Linked DNA regions of Homo sapiens. The protein of the gene in region 2 interacts with the protein of the main gene of each other region in a biochemical or structural test. Each region holds a gene or a part of one and is shown on either strand. Other genes may lie near its edges.

The links.
Region 1: of the proteins of PRKAA1 (region 2) and PPM1E, one has a biochemical effect on the other in vitro, tested with the Homo sapiens proteins (one study listed by BioGRID).
Region 3: the proteins of PRKAA1 (region 2) and FNIP1 form a complex in vitro, tested with the Homo sapiens proteins (one study listed by BioGRID).

What each region holds. Positions count from the first base shown.
Region 1 is NC_000017.11:58,975,826-58,982,853, reverse strand, and holds part of PPM1E (protein phosphatase 1E), read right to left. Parts: intron 2,881-7,028; coding exon 1,823-2,880; 3' UTR 1-1,822. UniProt on the Homo sapiens protein: Protein phosphatase that inactivates multifunctional CaM kinases such as CAMK4 and CAMK2. Dephosphorylates and inactivates PAK. May play a role in the inhibition of actin fiber stress breakdown and in morphological changes driven by TNK2/CDC42.
Region 2 is NC_000005.10:40,774,358-40,781,385, reverse strand, and holds part of PRKAA1 (5'-AMP-activated protein kinase catalytic subunit alpha-1), read left to right. Parts: exon of another isoform or gene 1-31; intron 32-1,047; exon of another isoform or gene 1,048-1,304; coding exon of another isoform or gene 1,305-1,353; intron 1,354-3,799; coding exon 3,800-3,941; intron 3,942-5,882; coding exon 5,883-5,976; intron 5,977-6,413; coding exon of another isoform or gene 6,414-6,458; intron 6,459-7,028. UniProt on the Homo sapiens protein: Catalytic subunit of AMP-activated protein kinase (AMPK), an energy sensor protein kinase that plays a key role in regulating cellular energy metabolism.
Region 3 is NC_000005.10:131,668,018-131,675,045, reverse strand, and holds part of FNIP1 (folliculin-interacting protein 1), read left to right. Parts: intron 1-2,121; coding exon 2,122-3,541; intron 3,542-4,414; coding exon 4,415-4,583; intron 4,584-7,028. UniProt on the Homo sapiens protein: Binding partner of the GTPase-activating protein FLCN: involved in the cellular response to amino acid availability by regulating the non-canonical mTORC1 signaling cascade controlling the MiT/TFE factors TFEB and TFE3.

The DNA of each region.
Region 1 (7,028 bases), on a different chromosome or scaffold from region 2:
TATGAGTGAGGACCATGTGTGGGGCAAAGCCTCAGAATGATGAAAAGGTTCCGGCACTATAGTTGGGGCCATGTTGACTCCTTTTCAACCATTTGTCACAGACGTGAGAAGAAGAAATGACTTCAAAATCAAGAGAAAACAAATACTGAAAGTCTCTACTTACATCCAAATTTTAAAAAATAAAATCTGTAGATTAACAATCTGATCATTGCTAAAGTGAAGCTGTTTTTGTCTATTTGATATAGCTATACTGGTATCCAAAATATGCCAGTCATCTGTGTCTTTAAAATTCAGAGATTTTAGTCCTCTGTTATGGGCCTGGGGAACGTGTACTATCCTATAAACACATGATTAGGCGGGGGACACTTCTTAGCGAGAGCACTCACCCTTGTTAGTGAGCACTCCAGAGGGGCCACCCATAGGCATTGGCCAGGCTGGTCTGCTGTTGACTAGGGGAGGGTAACACTAAGACATTCGTGACTCTTAGAGAATCAGAGGCTGCTTCACTGAATGAATGAATCTGATAGTTTGTTGTCTTTAGTTGACAACATGCTTCTAACTAACTTGAAACTGCAGAAATAGCAAAAAGCAGACAGTTTCAAAATATCAAATATAACTAAATATTGAAATGAAAAGCACACGTCCTGTCTCTGCAGTCTGAAGCTACATGTAAGCAGGACACTCATGTGTCTTCCAATTACAACTAAACAGACCTGGCTGTCAGTAATCTGCATTCTCAGTGGCCTCTGGGCTCACTTTAGACAATACTTTCAGCCTCCTTCATTCCAATTACTTCACTACCTTGGGGGAAATAATTTTAGAGAAGATAAAAGTAGCATTTTTCATTCTCTAAAATCACTTTGTATTTTATAGTAGTACATGCCTTTGCTGTCTGAACTAAAAAAAGACAAAATATAGAAATGCTTTTGATTTTCTTTGTAAATGGTATTTTGACTCTATAGTGTATTTGTACCTGACATCATCTCCGTTAAAGCAGTTTTATTCCTGAGATGAGGGTACAGTGGAAAACACATTAGCATCATAGATTAAAACCAGTTGACAGCGGTCTCCTAAAATGCTAAATAATAAAAATTTCCACCAAAAGCACCATAACAGGTTATGAAACTCCCAAATAACTACAGCCCTAGGAAATATTTTTTAATTAAAAAAAGTTCACAATCTTTTATGTTACAGGAAAAAAATCCGTAAATCTTTCTGACTATAAACCGCCTCACAAGTCTGAGAATATGACACTTTTACACTGATTTACCACTTTCATTGTTATCAGTTAAAATCCATATGGCTTTTAGTCTTTTACCTACCCAAAAAGGTGAGGGGGCAGGGGGTTCCTTCATAGTGCCCAGGATTTTGAGGGACATTTCCCAACCAAATGTAATTCAGCATTAAATTTTCCACAGATAAATTAGGCACATCAGACCAGATTTCAACTGCATTGAGATTTCAACACTGTATATCCTGACTGAAATAACTAACTTGAAAGCTTCCACTAGTGACTGAAGGGATGGTGGGAAGGGGGTTGTGTATCTAGTGACATGAAGGATGGTGGGAAGGGGGTTGTGTATTGGTGTCGAGACACATCACAGGGACCAGCTGTGTAATTTTGCAAGTGAAACTGCCAATACTTCTTTTTAGATTGAAAACACTGTACTTTGAGTTTCCTAGAGATCTATTTACATTTAAGAATTGAGCCATCCATGGATTCATAATGAAGCACATATGTTTTAGAAATGTCTACCTTGTTTCTACTCTGATAGTGGTATTTTTATTGGGGGAGAGCTAGCTAACCTACTTGAAAGAAAAATTATTCTATTTTATAGCTCCAAGGAAGATCTGGGCATGGAATATCATGAGTCTTTCTGAGCTTCCTCATGTTTTCACTGTACCCTTTCCAACTATTTTGCCTCCATGGCAGAGAACTTCTTATCCTATTTCTCTTCCCACTTCCAGTAAGTGAGGACAGGCTAGTGCCTATTTTGTGGGAAGGCTCTTGAGCAGAGAGAAATGAATAAAACTTTGGATTAAACCTGAATCTGTGCCACTTCTTTGAGTAGTGGTGGCGTAAATGAGACAATCTAGAAACTCTGTTTCCCGGGGATTTGAACTGTTCATTTTCCAACCCTGAACAGACAGGAGACAAGCTCTGCATTCTGTATATCTGCTCCCCTGTTGAACCCAAATTGAAAGCAGTGGGAAACTCTCCAGCACCACTCCATTCAGGCAATGATGACTGAACTGATTTTTTCTCCATCATTAACTCATTAATAAGATTTGCTTTCTTTGGTGCACCAGGACCAAACATCTCAACTGGTAGCAAAAACTGGGCACTGTGAGGTTTGCTTGCTTCTATTTGTGTGAGATCTAGGTAGCCTGGGTCTTCCAGCACGTTGATTTGGGACCCTGGGCTCAGGCTAGTTCTATCAGTGAATGAATCCACACGCCCATCATAGCCTAGGTCGGCTGGTGCTGAGCACTGGTGCTGAGGCCAAGGGCGTTTGCACTCTCCATGATTCTCCTTATCATCCCCACCATCTTCTTGCCCTCCTTGAAAAGAGTTCTCTGTCCAATCTGATTCCTCACTAACATTTACAGCTTTGTTCATGTCCCTCAGGAATACCACAATAACCGTGATGTTATCACTTGACCCAGCATCACGAGCTGATGCCACTAATTTGTGGGCAACCATGCTGCTGTCTCCATTATTCTCTTTCAGGTGGTCGGACACAACTTTCACTGCCTCATCAGGGTTCACGGTGTCATAGAAGCCATCACAGGCCAGAATGAGGTAGTCTTCGGTCCCATCCAGAACAGTGGAGGCAGAATCTGCATCCCCACAGATATATGGCTTATGTTCAGCATCTCCTGCGGGAAGCAGAGTGTAGGGGCATCATTAGCATTTGTTTTACCTTGCATGCTAAGAACGTTTATGACCAATGCCATGACTCTGATCACAGCTTACTGGATTGTGAACTGACTTGACTGGAAAGAATTTATAAAATAGTTTTTGACAAAATACTTAAATTCTCTGGTAATCAGATCTGCTTACTCCTTACTCCCAGTTAAATAATTGCTAGTTACTGGGCATAAGTCCTTACCTAGCTTAGACTCTGAATCTGCACCTCTGGCTATGATTTAGGCTTAGCTGAGTGTAACAACAATGTCAGATCTAAAAGTTTGTTGCTGTACTGAAAAATTCAGTACACTGTGTAGGAAGACATGGTTGATTCAGTAGATCTGTTCTTTTGCAGGTGGTTTTGATTTAATTGAAATTTGAAAACAAGCCCACATTGAAAGAAGCAAACCAAAGCTCTGATCATTCTCTTCATTAAATAATTTTTGTTCTATTCTTGTTTAGAAATCAATAAATAGCTTCATGCTGCGAGCACGAAGGAAGGTTTGAGTTACACGAGATTTTATAAATCAAGTCTAACTCCCTTAAGCCAGGAGGAGTTATGTGGCTGACCCAAGGCCTCACACATGGGAGCTGAATGCAGTTTTCTTGATTCCCAACCCACTTGGCTTTCTATTTTTTAGTGGTGCTTTACCTGTAACTTCTAGAGAACAGACAAAATGTATGGCCATTTTTCTCTTATATTTAGAGACTGCCATATTCTTCATATGGCTCTGCTCATCGCCCCACTTCTGTCTTTATTGTTATTGTGCATTTCCCCACTCATTAACAACTGTGAGAACCCAAGGTCTTTCTGGGCCTTTCTCTCTTCCTTTTCTTGCTTAGCTTCGTCCTCTCACAGAATGACATCTGAGCTGGTCCTGAAGGGTAAGTTAGTTATCACCAGGCAGAGAAGTTGCCTCAATTGAGGGAACAGGATAAGCAAAGGCAGAGGCAACTGTTAGGGAGTAATGTACAGTTGGAGAGTAGGGTGCTTGGGGTAGGAGCGAGACTGCAGACCTTGGGACCACACTAAACTAGGTTTCTATCACCAGACTACTGAGATAATTGATCATTTAGGGCTTTCAGATCCAGAGCACTTCCAAATCCATTCATTGTTTACATTGATTACATTCCTTTAGGTACCTTGTGAGAGTGCAGCAAAAGGGTCCTTAGCCTATGAGGTAACCAAATAGCTTATGACTACAACAAGGGACTCTCAATTCACTTTTTTATTTTTATTTTTATTTTTTGTCGCCCAGGCTGGAGTGCAGTGGCACAATCTCGGGTCACTGCAGCCTCTGCCTCCCAGGTTCCAGCAATTCTCCTGCCTCCGCCTCCGGAGTAGCTGGGATTACAGGCGTACGCCACCACACCTGGCTAATTTTTATATTTTTATTAGAGACGGGGTTTCACCATATTGGCCAGGCTGGCGTCGAACTCCTGACCTCTGATAATCTGCCTGTGTCGGCCTCCCAAAGTGCTGGGATAACAGGCATGAGCCACCGCATCTGGCCTCTCATTCACTTCTTTACAAAAAAATAAAAACAAAACCACACACAGGGTACTGAGCAATAATTCCTAGAGTAGGGTATCATAAATCATCATTACATAGTATTATAAAAACAAGAAATAAACTCCAGATATTTACAAAGGGCTTTACTGTATAGCAGTGGCATATTGCTTAGTGGTTAAGGACACCAGCACTAGTGTCAGACTGCCTGGGTCCAAATCCTAGCTCTTCTACTTGTCACCTACACAACTCTCATCAATTACTATCCTTTCCATTGCACTAAAACCGAACTTTTTGACTCAGGGAATATTAAAATGAAGATAAACTCACTTGAGTAATCTGACTATATATTCATTATTTCTAGTATCTGTTATAGGTTCTCTTTGACACAAGAAAGTTGGCCAGGCGCATGCCTGTAATCCCAGCACTTTGGGAGGCCAAGGCGGGAGGATACTTGAGGTCGGGAGTACGAAGCCAGCCTGGCCATCATGGTGAAACCTTGTCTCTACTAAAAATACAAAAATTAGCCGGGCCTGGTGGCATGCATGCAAAGTCCCAGCTACTCAAGAGGCTGAGGCAGGAGAATTGTTTGAACCCAGGAGGCAGAGGTTGCAGTGAGCCCAGATTGCGCCACTGCACTCCAGCCTGGATGACAGAGGGAGACTCTGTCTCAAAAAAAAGTTTCTTTCCAACATTTAACATCCCTGTTTAATCCTCAAATAGGCTAGAAAGCTCATTAGGAACCCTATGGATAACTCTGCTAGAACCAATGTGGGCACATGCCCTATCTAGCAGGTTGCATGATTAGATACACAGAGCAACAAATAATTAATATAATTACCTGAGTTAGTATATCTATTAGGTAAGAAATTAGTCTTCGACATTATAAATGTTCATTTCACTCCTTCCATTCACAAACACAACCTCTCATCTTACTCATATCTAGGCTCTTCTCCATTCATTCATTCATTATTTCTTTTTTTTTTTTTTTTGAGACAGAGTCTCACTGTGGCCCAGACTGGAGTGCAGTGGTGTGATCTCAGCTCATTGCAACCTCCACCTCCCGGATTCAAGCAATTCTCCTGCCTCAGCCTCCCAAGTAGCTGGGATTACAGGCACGCACCACAATACCCAGCTAATTTTTGTGTTTTTAGTAGAGACAGGGTTTCACCATGTTGGTCAGGCTGGTCTTGAACTCCTGACCTTGTGATCTACCCACCTGGGCTTCTCAAAGTGCTGGGATTCTAGGTGTGAGCCACCGCGCCCAGCCCTCATTCATTATTTCTTACAGGAGTCAAAACCATCTTTCCCAAGCATGCTTTTGATTTAATCAACTTCACTTATATGCTAAGGTGCCTCCATAGCCTGTTAGAGCTCATTAAAACTCAATCTATTTAAGCAGAAAATGCAAAAATTTAAAAGATATTTAAAAATAAATAATAAATAAAATCCAATATGGGATTCAGTGTCCTTCACCAATTTACTAAAGTTCCCATCCCCTATTCTACCTGACTATATGATTATCATCATTATTATTTTTTGAATTCCGCCTCTAAAAATAAATGTGATCTGAGTCACACTGTTCCCAAAAATCTTGTTTTAGTGCTTCAATTAAAAGACTGCTGCAACTGTTAGTTTGGAACAGAACATACAAAGATTTGTACAGAGAAAATGCTGCCAAAGTTCTGGCTTTTCACCTGCTCTACTGTTGGGTGTCAAATTCATGACATTTCGCCCCCAAATTTGGTAGGAGGGCATGAATATCCATTTCATCGTAGAAATGGCAACATCCTTTTGTCTTCAACCTCTTCTCTCCATATGTTAGGAAACATATCATGCCTCTGTCAACTTTGGATCATAAATCTGAAGGGCTCATGGGGAGAAACTGTTGAAAACCTTTTCATTTTTATAAGTATCATTTCTTTCCTGAGTAGAGCTGAACTCTGCCCAGGAGTCCTTTTTCTTGTCCTTTTGCAGCCCCCCATTTTATTCCATGTGGTTTCCAATTCTTTCTCAAATTCTTCAACTCCCTCATCCACTTAAGCTACTGGATTTTGGTAAATGGCCTAATTTCCTACTTCAAAGACAAGTTGATCAGGCTTGAATTTTCTCAATTCCCCTCCCACCCTTGCCACACATGCACTGTTTAATCTGTAGAGATTCTCCCATATCAGCTACCATTTTCTCAGGGTAAGCAGTGTCCTTTTCCCATCCTAACAGTGAGCCTGTGCTGCTCTGGCTTCTCTACTCTCTCGTCTTCAATTTCTCCTCTACTTGCTCTCTTCCTTGTCCTACAAACATGCTCAAATCTAAAATCTCCTCGTCCTAAAAATAGAAACAATAAAAAGGAACCCTTTCCTGAATCAGCTTTTGCCTTAAGCCACCACACTATTTCCTTTCTCCCCTTCACCATCAAACTGCCCAAGAAACTAAATCTACACTTGCTCCTTTATGTTACTGCCTATTTCCAGTGCCAGATTGTTTGTTGATTAGTAGGTTTTCCCACCAACCAATCCATCTCATCAGTTGATACCCTCCTCCATATTCCTTTTTAGCTCTCCTCATCTCTGTAACAAACTGTATGAATGTCTCCCAGCCAGGCTCTTT
Region 2 (7,028 bases):
TTTGATGGAATATATATTCTCCAGTAGGTTCCTGAGAAAGGGTGCACAAAGGTTAAATTTTTGGAGACTTAGCCTCATGACTGTCTAAATTCTACTGGTGATCATATCCCCAAAAGACCAAATCCCTAATGCCATAATCCCAAATGTTGAAATACTGAAAGATCAAAATCTCTAAAAATCAGAATCCCTAAATTCTAAAAATCTCACACATCTGAAATCCTGAAAATCAGAATCATGAAAGATTAAAATCCCAAATGTTGAAATGCTGAAAGCCAACACCTGGGGTAGAAATTAGTGCACATTCGGTTGTATGAAAGATAGTTGCATCATTTTACTTGCATCATATTAGGTGGAACCGATTGCCTTTTTATTGTATTTATTTGGAAATTAAGTATGGTTTAAGGAGATGGTTTATGGGTGCCAAATTGACGAGGGGTGGATTCATGGATTTAATTTTAGGTGTCAACTTGACTGGATTAAGAAATACCTAGAAACTTGTTAAAGCATTATTTTGGGTTTGTCTGTGAGGAGATTAGTATGTGAGTCTGAGTGGACTAGGTGGGGAAGATCTGCCCTCAATAGCGGTGGCCACCATTAAATCTGCTGGGGGCCCAGAGAAAACAAATTGTTGCCTTTCTGAGAGCTGGAACGGACTTTTCTTCTGCTGAATTGAACATCAGAACTCCAGGCTTGTTGGCATTTGGACTCTAGGACATACACCAGCAGCCCCCTGGGTCCTGGGCTTTCAGCCTCAGACTGAGACCTGGTTTGGCTTGGTTCTGAGGTCTTTGGACTGAGCCAAGCTACCAGCATGCCAGGGTCTCCAGCTTGAAAATGACCTGTCCTGGAACTTATCAGCCACTATAATCGCATGAGCCAATTCCCCTAATAAATCGTCTCTCATATATCTATGTATATATATATCTTATTGGTTATGTCTCTCAAGAATGCTGTCTGTCGAGAATTATGTCTGTCGAGAATGCTGACTAATACGGATTTGGTATTGAGAAAGCCAAATATCATTCCTTCTTACTGTATTCCTTACAGCACAGTGGAAGAGACCTGTGAAATTGTTCCCTTGCAAAAAGGCTGTGATAAATTAAGTATACCAGGCTACTTAATGCTGAAAGAGAAAAGTTTAAAAGCTAATTATTATTGGTGTTGTGAAGACAGAAAATCACTTAATTGCAATGGCCAAGCAATAACCAGATTTCTAAATGGTCAGCATATACTTACAAAATATTTAGACCACAACCGCTCTAGTCTAAACACAAGTGAATGTTTTGAAGATCATAGAAGTGAATATGCAGGTGAAAAATATAAGAAAGCTCCCCTGCCAAATTATTCAATCAGGTATGACTTCTGCCCTTTCACACATAGTGCCAATTTGCTATGCTATGTATTTTATCTTTGCATCATTTCTAATACTGCAGGTATAAATTCTGTAAAGGCTTTTAGAGAATTCTAATTCATTTTATGCACTTTTTTTTTGCATATTTGACTCCATGAAAGTGCATTATCACAATGTGACGTAATGTGTAAGCATTGTGCATGTACATAAAAATGTTGAAACTTGCTCAGTAAATGAAGAGATGTCCGTTTTGTTCATCTGTATTTGTGAAAGATAAAATTTCTCAAGATCTTGGCTCTTTGGGTGACTCTATTGCAGTTTTTGTGCAAACGGTAGTGACCCATTGCAGTTTTTGATCGATCTTGTCAGAAGATTCAGGTTGTCTGGTATTTCAGATGACCGCAGTTATGAATCTGGGTGCACCTGATTACCAACCATAGTGATACGTGTTTATCCATTTTGCTTTTTAATCTATTTCTTCATGAATACATTTTCTCTGTTCCTATTATACCCATGCAATGGTTGTTAGTATACCTGAGTATTTATGCTTGCAAAAATATGTTATTAGTGCCTATTTTATTGTGTAAAGGGGCCTATGAACTGTTCCGTTGTGTTTTTATGTTTCTCAAATAAATCTTTTAAAAATGGAAATAAGTGTCTTTTAGAGAACTTTTTACAAATTATTTTTCCAGAATTCAATTTTTTGGATTTTGTTCTTTTGGGATTGTGATTTTTGGAATTTTAGATTTTAGGGATTTTGATCTTTTGGGATTTCAACATTTGGGATTATGGCATTTGGGATTGTGTCTTTTGGGATTATGTCCTAAACCCAAATTCTGTCACCACCGACTGTCTAGTGATAACATTTAAAATGGAAAGATAAAATGACTTGATTTTTTTTTTCCCTTTATTTTTAACTGCATTTAAAAAAATAGAGGCTGGGCATGGTGGCTCACACCTATAATCCTAGCACTTTGGGAAGTTGAGGCTGGTGGATTGCTTGAACTGAGGAGTTTGAGACCATCCTGGTCAATATGGTAAAACATCATTTCTACAGAAAAATACAAAAAAATTATCTGGGTGTGGTGGGGCCTGCCTGTAGTCCCAGCTACTTGGGAGGCTGAGATGGGAGGATCACCTGATCACCTGAGCCTGGGGAGGTTAACGCTGCAGTGAGCTCTGATTGTGACACGGCACTCCACCCTGGGTGATAGAGTGACACCCTGTCTCAAAAAAAAAAAAAAAAAAAAAAAAATTAAAAAACAGGAAAAAAAATTTAAAACACAGAGAAACCAAAAAAACTAGAAACCACATGCACATGAACCAGAATTTCAAAGGTATAAGAGGTTATGGATGGGGAAATGTATCTATGACATGAGAGAGTCTTTTGGGATGATGGAACTGTTCTGTATCTGACTATATAATGCTGGTTACACCAATTTCTATATGTTTTAATATCCATATAAATGATACTAAAAGAAAAATTTTAGTCTGTGTGTATGATAGGTTAAAAGGTGAAAAATTAAAAGAATTTAAAAATACGAAAAGGTATACAGCAAAAAAGTCTCCTTCCCCTCTTCCTTTAGTCTTCTAGCTTTCTCTTCTGGAAGAAACCACTGTTACCAATTTCTTATGTATTCTCCTATGTAATCACTCTTAAACATCTGAACATTTGGGATGAATCTGGCAAAAGAGAAAATAACTTATATTTGCTTAGCTATTTTCTGAGGATGCTAGATGACTACTCTTATAATATGTCTAAATATATTATTATTTTTATTTTGTTGAGGCAGAGTCTCAATCATCACCCCAGACTGGAGTGCAGTGGTGCAATCTGGGCTCACTGCAACCTCTGCCTCCCAGGTTCAAGTGATTCTCCTGCTTCACCTCCCAAGTAGCTGGGATTACAGGCATGTGCCACCACTGCACCCAGCTAATTTTTGTATTTGTTTGTTTGTTTGAGACAGAGTTTTGCTCTTGTTGCCCAAGCTGGAGTGCAGTGGTGTGATCTCGGCTCACTGCAACCTCCGCCTCCTGGGTTCAAGCGATTCTCCTGCCTCAGCCTCCCGAGTAGCTGGGATTACAGCTGTGTACCAGCACGCCTCGCCAATTTTTTGTATTTTTAGTAGAAACGGGGTTTCACCATGTTAGCCGGGCTGGTCTCGAACTCCTGATCTCAGGTGATCTGCCCGCCTCGGCCTCCCAAAGTGCTGGGATTACAGGCATGAGCCACCGCTCCCGGCCATTAATTTTTGTATTTTTTAGTAGAGATGGGGTTTTGCCATGTTGGCCAGATTGGTTTCGAACTCCTGACCTCAAGTGATCTACTCGCCTCGGCCTCCCAAAGTGCTGGGATTACAGGCATGAGCCACTGCACCGGGCCAGAATATGTGTAAATATATTATTAATCATACTTAGTACTAATTTATTAAATTACTTCTTTTACAGTTGGCAAACATGAATTGACTGGGCATAAAGTAGCTGTGAAGATACTCAATCGACAGAAGATTCGGAGCCTTGATGTGGTAGGAAAAATCCGCAGAGAAATTCAGAACCTCAAGCTTTTCAGGCATCCTCATATAATTAAACTGTAAGCTCTGTTTATATTAAATATAGTCCAGTCATCTTTTCATCTTTTTTGTTAACCTACTTAATGTGACAAGTGAGAAAAATGACTGACACTTCTTTTTGTTTCCTAAGGGTTTTGAAAAGTTTCTTCCTAGGCTGTGTGCGGTGGCTCACACCTGTAATTCCAGTACTTTGGGAGGCTGAGGCAGGCGGATCACCTGAGGTCAGGAGTTCGAGACCAGCCTGGCCAACATGGTGAAACCCTGTCTCCAGTAAAAATACAAAAATTAGCTGGGCATGGTGGTGGGCGCCTGTAATACCAGCTACTCGGGAGGCTAAGGCAGGAGAATGGCTTGAACCTGGGAGGCGGAGGTTGCAGTGAGCTGAGATCGTGCCATTGCACTCCAGCTTGGGCAACAAAAGCGAAACTCTGTCCCAAAAAAAAATAAAAGTTTCTTCCCATTCATGTATTTTTCTAACCCCATTGATGGTCATTTAAGCCTGTGTTCATGTTTTGCCCTTGTGCTTATCAGCTGTTATCTTCTCATTCTTTCCTGTCTCCTGGAAAGATGCTCTTCTGGTAATGTTTGGTGCCCCATTGCTGTAAAACCAACAGTGATCTGCTAGTAAAAACTCTTGACCTCCAAATGCCCACATGATGTCAGTTAGCCTCACTAGTGAGAATGCGGTAGTAGAAAGGGTTTTTCCCCATCCTGCTTATACCTGAACATATAGATAACAAAATTTCAGGAATCCAAGGTTTCAAAAGGGCAGTAATCTTACTGTTGTTTTACAGTTGCCAGTTATAGAGTCTACAAATAACTATTTCCTGCTCAGCTTCTGCTTTGTTATGCAGGCAATAACTTAAAGATGCTTAGGTTTTTCTCCTGAACTGGCTGACTCAAACTTGTTTCACTCTTACCTCTTCTCATTTGTTGAGTGCTAGGTTTTAAATACCATCCATATGCTGACCACCCCTAAATGTACATCTCTTGCTTTAAGATCTCTTCTTACACCAGACTTATTTGCTCACTGCTGACTTTACATTTCCATTTGGATGTTCGCAAGACATTTAAAACTCAACCCGGCCCAAAATGAACTCTTTATTACTCTCCCAAACCTGCTCTTCCCACAGTTTTCACCATCTTGGCTAACAGCCAATGACCCAGGGCTAAAACTTAGGAACCATTTTTAACTTCCCTGTTTCTTTCACTTTCTACCATGCATTTCATTTCTTCCTTCACAATCAAGCTAGGATTTGATTGCTTCTCAGTTCCTTTATTGCTGTCAACCTGGTCTCAGCCACCATCTGTCTCATGAAATCCTGAAGTAACCTCCTGTGGCTACCTTTACTGTTGACAGTTAATTCTTCACATTGCTGCCATAGTTTTACTTTTAATATGCCAGATCACATGACTGCTTAAAACGTACGATAGCTTTTCATCTTCCTTGGAGTAAAAGCCAAAGCCTTATCATGGCTTGTAAAATTCTGTGTCTTCTGGCCTGCAGTTAACACCTTTGACTCTACATCCTATTTCTCTCTAATATTCCTCGAACATGCCAAGCAGGCTTCTACTTGGGGACCTTTGCAGTTGCTATTCCCTCTCCCAGTTTCGCTTTCCTCCTAGATAATTACATAATTTGTTCCCATTCTTCTTTTAGGCTCAGCTCAAATGTTACTTTATTAGAGGCTTTCCTTTAGCACTCTGTATACAAAGATTCCCCTTCATTTGCTTTATTTTTCTTCATAGCATGTTCCACCACCTGAGATATTGCTTATTTATTTAGTGTCTGTTTCCTGGTTCCTGGAACATGAACTCCATGAGAGCAGAGAATTTTTGTTTCCTGCAGTTTTTCTAGCTCCTAGCCTAGTACCTGGTATACTATAGGTGCTTAGTAAATATTTATTGAATGAATGAATATATGTGTTTTAATATTTGTAGACAATGTTTTCTCTCACCAGGTACCAGGTCATCAGTACACCATCTGATATTTTCATGGTGATGGAATATGTCTCAGGAGGAGAGCTATTTGATTATATCTGTAAGAATGGAAGGGTAAGCTGTTCTGCTTTAATTCTGTATGTATTTTGTAACTCCCCTTTATCCTTTACTAGCATCAAAATGTCAGCAACCAATTTTAAGAGGTCTATTTAATAACCAGTTCCCTTAGTCATATATTTGTTTAGAATCATAAACTATGTAGAACTAGAAAGGATCTTAAAGATTATCTCCTTAGCCTGTTTATACAGATGTGGATACTGAGCCTCGCGGCTTATATGATTGCTCACAGTAACGTGATTTATTAATGACGGAATTGGCTTGAGCCCCCAGAACTCATAATCCTCAGACTTATGCTTCCAGGGTATACAAATACTTTGAATATGTATCTTAATGTAATTAATCGTTACAAAATATATTATTATTACTTAAAGATCTAGGCCTTGCTAGTCAATTCTAGCCACATTTAAATTGCATTCATTTTTTGGTTTCAGAAATCTGATGTACCTGGAGTAGTAAAAACAGGCTCCACGAAGGAGGTAGGAATTAGATATAAAGAATTTACAGCTGGAAGGAACTTTGTAGGACATTTTGAACACTACCTTAAGTTACAGATACAAAAACTCAACACTGCCCTCTGCCCATACTTTTTCTCATACCCAGGTTATGTGGTATGCAAAAGCCCCTTTGTGGGAGAGCTGTAGCTAGCCCTGAAAAGAGAGCTTTTCTCTCAATTTTAAGTTATTTACATTACTCATTCATTTGTTCTATATAGCATGTCTATTTACTTTTATCAAAATCAAACTTATTAACCAAGTTAATTTTGATTTTACTATTTCTTAACATGATTCATTTCTATTTCAGGTACTCCCCTTTACTCCTGCTTCTCCTTACCAAAAAAAAAAAAAAAAAAAAAATTCTGCCTGGAGAAATGGGAAACAGGCACAATTGATATATATTTTTCTTATCTTTTCTGTTGTTGTTTATTTCTTGGTTTTACCTTGTGGGTATTTCTTCAGTTTTACCAGTTGAATATTAAAATTTCAGCACCCGTATTTTCTATTTCAAAAGTTTCTTATTTTCTGAAATTTTCATTTTTTTAGTCTGCT
Region 3 (7,028 bases), about 91 Mb from region 2:
GGAAAAGTAAAGTGGGAATCATGAAAGACTCACTTGCCATGCCAAAGCAATTTCAACTTACTTGGTAATTTGTGGGAATTATGGGAGTAGTTTAGAACAGTGGCATGGTGATATTTGAGCCAGTGTGTTAGCCAGAAGAGAAAATTTATCATAATAGTATCTATAGCTTATATTTATTTGAGACCTATTTATATTTGTTCCTTTAAAAAGTGTGAGGGCTTTGTAAAGTAAAAATAGAGGATTTTAAATGTGTATACTGACAACTTCAAAAATTGAATTAAGTTGAAATTAATGGCTTTGTATTCTCCTTTTTTTTTCTTTCTTTCTTGAGACAGGGTCTCACGCTATTGCACAGGCTGGAGTGTGGTGGTGCGATCACAGCTCACTGCAGCCTCAACTTCCTGGGCTCAGGTGATTCTTCCGCCTCAGCCTCTCAGGTAGCTGGGATTACAGGTGCGCGCCACCATGCCCAGCTAATTTTCTGTATTTTTTTGTAGAGACAAGGGTTTCGCCATGTTGCCCAGGCTGGTCTTGAACTCCTGGGCTCAAGTGATCAGCCTGCTTCCACCTCCCCAAATGCTGGGATTACATGTGTAAGCCACCATGCCCAGCCCTATTCTCCATAGTTTTGGCACTGAAATTACTGGTTTAATTTGAAGTATAGCATAAATATAGAAATGCTAATTTCTAGTCCTGCCCCCCTCACCTCCCCTGCTTTTAACATAATGGCTAGTCATGTTTAGAATGGATTCAAAAGTGAAAATGAACTGCATGGCTGAACTTGTTGCCCTTTCTTTTCCTTTTAGTAAGGATGAGTCTCTCTCTTCCTGCCCTTTCTGGCCTATCCTGAGTACCCAACCCTCTAGGGAATGGAAGGGGAAAATAGGCTTTTACAAACATGGGAGCTGGTGGGGTGGGGTGCTGGCTAGAGGAACAACAGTTAAAGTTCAGAGATATGACTTACTTTTTTATTTTATTTCTTTTTATTTTTTATTATTTTTATTTTTTTGAGACGGAGTCTTGCTCTTGTTGCCCAGGCTGGAGTGCAGTGGTGTCATCTCGGCTCAGTGCACCCTCTGCCTCCTGGGTTCAAGTAATTCTCCAGCCTCAGCCTCCCAAGTAGCTGGGACTACAGGTGCCCACGACACCACCTGGCTAGTTTTTGTATTTTTAGTAGGTACAGGGTTTTACCATCTTGGCCAGGCTGGTCTTGAACTCCTGGTCTCAAGTGATCCACCCATCTCGGCCTCTCAGAGTGCTGGAATTACAAGCGTGAGCCACTGTGCCCGGCCCCAGAGATATGATTTAAATCAGGAATGGTTAAGTGTGTGGTGTGACGACTATAGCTTTGCTCCATTTTACCACTACTCCTTTCCTCTCCTTGCAAGCCAGTGGATATTGTGCTTTGTCTTTTCTTGATTGGACACAGCTACAGAATCCTTGTGTACATAGTACTTCAGGCAGTACTTCTCTAACAAGGTAAAAATGCTCTGCATGGAGCCTGGGTTAGAGAATATTCTTGGGATATGTGAGTTTCAGAACTGACTCTTTGCTTGAGGTTTCTGAACCATAGCATTTGTTTAAAGAGGAAACCAGAAAACCCTTAAATTCACCTTTCTCTCTGGTTAAGATTATTCATCTCATCTTCCTCCCTTGAATAGTCACTCATCTGTTAAAGAACTAAGAGTGAGGCCAGGCATGGTGGCTCACGCCTGTAATCCCAGCACTTTGGGAGGCCAGGGCCAGTGGATTGCTTGAGCCCAGGAGCTCAAGACCACCCTAGGAAACATGGCAAAACTCTGTCTCTACAAAAAAAAAAAAATACAAAAAATTAGCCAGGCATGGTGGCACGCGCTTATAGTCCCAGCTACTCAGGAGGCTGAGGTAGCAGGATCACCTGAGCCTAGGAGGCTGAGGCTGCAGTGAACCATGATTGTACCACTGCACTCCAGCCAGGATTACAGTGTGAGACCCTGTCTCAAAAAAAAAAAAAACAAAAAAACGAGTAAAACCTAAACTATTACTCATACAGTAAAAGAAGTAGGTTTCTGATCATTAAAAATAGCTTACTTAGCTGTGTCAGTAAAGGACATGTCCAATAACTGATTTTTTCCATTACAGGAGACTTGTATGGCGCTATTGGCTCTCCCGTACGGTTAGCAAGGACTGTGGTAGTTGGCAAACGACAAGACATGGTCCAGAGGCTACTTTATTTTCTTACTTATTTTATAAGATGCTCTGAACTTCAAGAAACGCATCTTTTAGAAAATGGAGAAGATGAAGCCATCGTTATGCCAGGCACAGTAATTACTACCACTTTAGAGAAAGGTGAAATAGAAGAATCAGAGTATGTCCTTGTCACAATGCATAGAAACAAAAGCAGTTTGCTCTTTAAAGAGTCAGAAGAAATTAGAACTCCCAATTGTAACTGTAAATATTGCAGTCATCCACTCCTTGGGCAAAATGTAGAGAACATTTCACAACAAGAGAGAGAAGATATTCAAAACAGCTCTAAGGAGCTGCTAGGAATTTCAGATGAGTGCCAGATGATTTCTCCTTCTGACTGCCAAGAAGAAAATGCTGTTGATGTTAAACAGTACAGAGATAAATTAAGAACTTGCTTTGACGCCAAGTTAGAGACAGTTGTTTGCACAGGATCTGTTCCAGTAGACAAATGTGCATTGTCAGAGTCAGGCTTAGAGTCAACAGAGGAAACATGGCAGAGTGAGAAGTTGCTGGATTCAGACAGTCACACAGGCAAAGCAATGAGATCCACAGGAATGGTTGTGGAAAAAAAACCTCCAGATAAGATTGTGCCTGCTTCATTTTCTTGTGAGGCTGCCCAGACAAAGGTTACTTTCCTGATTGGGGATTCTATGTCACCTGATTCAGATACTGAGCTTCGAAGTCAGGCAGTGGTGGATCAGATTACCAGACATCACACCAAACCATTGAAGGAAGAAAGAGGGGCTATTGATCAGCATCAAGAAACTAAACAAACAACCAAGGACCAATCTGGAGAGTCTGATACACAGAACATGGTTTCTGAAGAGCCCTGTGAACTTCCCTGTTGGAATCATTCAGACCCAGAAAGCATGAGCTTATTCGACGAATATTTTAATGATGATTCAATCGAAACCAGGACTATTGATGATGTTCCATTTAAAACAAGTACAGATAGTAAAGACCATTGCTGTATGTTAGAGTTTTCAAAAATATTGTGTACAAAAAATAACAAGCAGAACAATGAATTTTGTAAATGTATAGAAACAGTTCCCCAAGATTCATGTAAAACCTGCTTTCCTCAGCAGGACCAAAGAGATACACTCTCCATTCTTGTCCCCCATGGGGATAAAGAGAGTTCAGATAAAAAAATTGCTGTAGGAACTGAATGGGACATTCCAAGAAATGAAAGTTCAGACAGTGCCCTTGGGGATAGTGAAAGTGAAGATACAGGTCATGATATGACTAGACAAGTTAGCAGTTATTATGGAGGAGAGCAAGAAGATTGGGCAGAAGAGGATGAGATACCTTTTCCTGGGTAAGTAGGAAGTTTTCACCTATAATGGGCCCTATATAAATATGTACCATTCTCTTTTTTAGCTGTTCTCTGAAGGTTAGTATAAAAGAGATCATTGTTCTGGATAGCTCTCTTGTTTTCATATTCTCTTAACTCATAAGAAGGAGTAAAGGCTAAGCTCCAGAAACACCCTGGAAAGGTTTTATGAAGACCTCAAATAAAAGTTAAAGGATCTGGTTGATAAGTATAAGATTTCTTACTGCTTAGAAGGTTTCAAGCCATTTAGGAGTGACTTATGCCCCCCAAAGGACATATGCTGAGCCTGGCAGTTAGGGAGCACTAATCCCTGAGATGTTAGAATAGCTGTTAGAAATAGATTTGGCCAAGACTAAGAGGAAAACAGAGAATGTATACTTTGGGTCAAGTATGCAAGGAGAATATTCATGCTTGAGAAACATTACATACCTAGCTTTGGACTTGTGAGGCATTTAATTGTTTTGTTTTAGATGATTGTTTTCATAATCTGATTGTATTAAGAATGTGCTACAAACACAAGGTACAATTCTCTTAAAGTCTCTTAGGAAAGATTGATCCTCACTTCATTACTCAGTTGCTCATCAGACCTTCTTCTCTGAATAAGAAGGAGTATTTTATTTTCTGATAGAGCACTTGAGCCAGTTTTTAAATAACGATGATTTTACTCTTGATTTTACTATTATTACCATTTTACTCTTAATTTTTACGATTGTTACCATTATATAAGGATGATTTTACACTTGATTTTAATACAGACTAGTGTAAAATATGGACAAGTAGAATTCACTTTTTTTTTTTTTTACTGGTTAAATATATTTATTACTAAATAAATGTCTTTTGGGGGCATTTTTCTTCCAGGTCAAAGTTAATCGAAGTGAGTGCTGTTCAGCCCAACATTGCCAACTTCGGGAGGTCCTTGCTGGGTGGCTACTGCTCATCTTATGTGCCTGACTTTGTTCTTCAAGGAATTGGGAGTGATGAGAGGTTCCGTCAGTGTCTGATGTCAGATTTATCTCATGCTGTGCAGGTGAGTGACCTTCACTGTTTTTGAGTTTATTTAGAAGAAACTCTGTTAAGCAGCAGAACCCAAAATTGCCTTATATTTTTGGTCATACTTTTTACAACACAATCATTGTTCTCTGAATCCATCATTTTATATTCAGTGCCCGTATCTTTGTATCTGTCACTGTGAAAGCAAATAAAGTTCCAGAAATCTATCCACATGGATATCTGAAATACAGAAAGTACTTTATGTATTCATGGATGTCCATCAACTAGGTTATTTATAGTATCAAAAATTTGCAAGTGCTTAAGTTTGAATGGAATTATTTTCTTAATTTCCTTTTCAGATTACTCATTGCTTACATATAGAAGTGGGGTTGGCTTTTGTGTATTGATCTTATATCCTTTGGTCTTTCTGAAACTCTTATTAGTCTATTCATTTTTCTGTATAGGTTCCCTAAGGTTTTCTACACACAGGCTCATGTTATCAGTGAACAGATAGTTTTAAATCTTTCTTAACAATCTGGATGCCTTTTGTCCCCGCTGCCCCCAACTTTTTTTTTTTTTTTTGACTCATTGTACTGGCTAGAATTTTCAATACAATGTTGCATGGAAGTGGTGACCATGGACATCGTTGCCTTATTCCTGATCTTAGGGGAAAGACATTGCATCTTTCATGATTAAGTATGTTGTTAGTTGTAAGGTTTTTGTGATGCCCTTTATTAGATGGAAGAAGTTCCCTTTTTATTTTTATTTTGTTTAACCGAATACTTCTTTTAGAGACAGGCAGTTCTCTTTTATTCCTAGTTTTGAGACGGTTTGGTTTTTTTTGTCCATCCCTTAATCATGAATGAGTGTGGGATTTTGTCATATGCTTTTTCTCAATGTCTATTGAGATTGTATTGTCGTGTCATTTTTCATCTTTAAACTATTAATGTCATGGATTTCATTAATTAATTTTTAGATGTTAAACCAACCATTGTATTCCTAGGAAGCAATTCCCACTCTGTCATGGTATATAATTTTTTTTATGTGTTGCTGGATTTGATTTACCAATATTTTATTATGGACATTGGAGTCTATATTCATGAGAAATATTGCTTTTTAGTTTTCTTGTGATGTCTTTGTCTAGCTCTGATATCAGGATAATATTGGCACATCCTCTATTTTCTGGAAGAGTTTCCAGAAGATTAGTACTACTTTTTTTCTCTAAACGTTTGGTAGAACTCACTAGTGAAACCATCTGCATCCAGGCTTTTAAGAATAAGAATATTTTAAATTGCTAATTTAATTTCTTCACCTTTTATACATTTAGATTTTCTATTTGTTTCTGAGTCCATTTTGGTAATTTTTGTCTTTTAGGAATTTATTAGTTGCATTTAAGTGGCCTAATTTACTAGAATCAAGTTGTTTATATTATACACTTACAATCCTTTTAGTTTTTATAAGGTTGCTAGTGATGTCCCCTCTTTTGTTCCTGAATTTTGTAATGTGTGTTTTTGTTTGTTTGTTTTTCAAATGGTGAGGGCTTCTCCAAAGAGAAGTTCATTCGTGGTTTCACTTAAATTGTATATATTTTTTGCCCATATACATCAAGGATTAGCAAGCTATGGACAGTGGGCCAAATTGTCCTGCTTTTTATAGATGAAGTTTTATTAGAACACAACCACAGTCATTCATTTATATGCTTCTGGCTATGTTCATGCCTAACAGCAGAGTTGAGTTATTGAGACAGAGACTTTTCAGCCCCCAAACCTAAAATATTTCCTGTTTGTTCTTATTTTATTTTATTTCATTTTTCTTGAGACAGAGTCTAGCTCTGTTACCCAGGCTGGAGTACAGTGGTGCCATCTCAGCTTACAGTAACTTCTGCCTCCCAGGTTCAAGTGATTCTCTTGCCTCAGCCTCTGGAGTAGCTGGGATTACAGGTGCCCACCACCACACCTGCCTAATTTTTGTATTTTTAGTAGAGATGAGGTTTCACCATGTTGGCCAGGTTGGTCTGGAACTCCGACCTCAGGTGATCCACCCACCTCAGCCTCCCAAAGTGCTGGGATTATAGGCGTGAGCCACCGCACCTGGCCAAATCTGACAAATTTCGATCTGTTGTATTTTCAGTTTCATTCATTTCAAAATGTTTTTACATTTTGCTTGTAATTTCTTTGACTTATGAGTTATTTAGAAGTATGCTGTTTAATTTACAAATATTTATGGAATTCTCAAAAGTTGTTTTGCTGTTGGTTTCTAATTTAATTCCATTATGGTTGGAGAACCTACTTTGTTCACCTCTTGTAAATTTATTGAGACTGTTTTATGGCACTTGAAAAGAATATATATTCTGCTTTTGTTGAAATGTTCTATAGCTATCAGGTCAAGTTAGATAACCTTTAGATAATAGTCTTAATTAAGTCTTTTATGTCCGTGCTGATTTTCAGTTTGTTTCTGCCATCAATTATTGAGAATGAAGTAT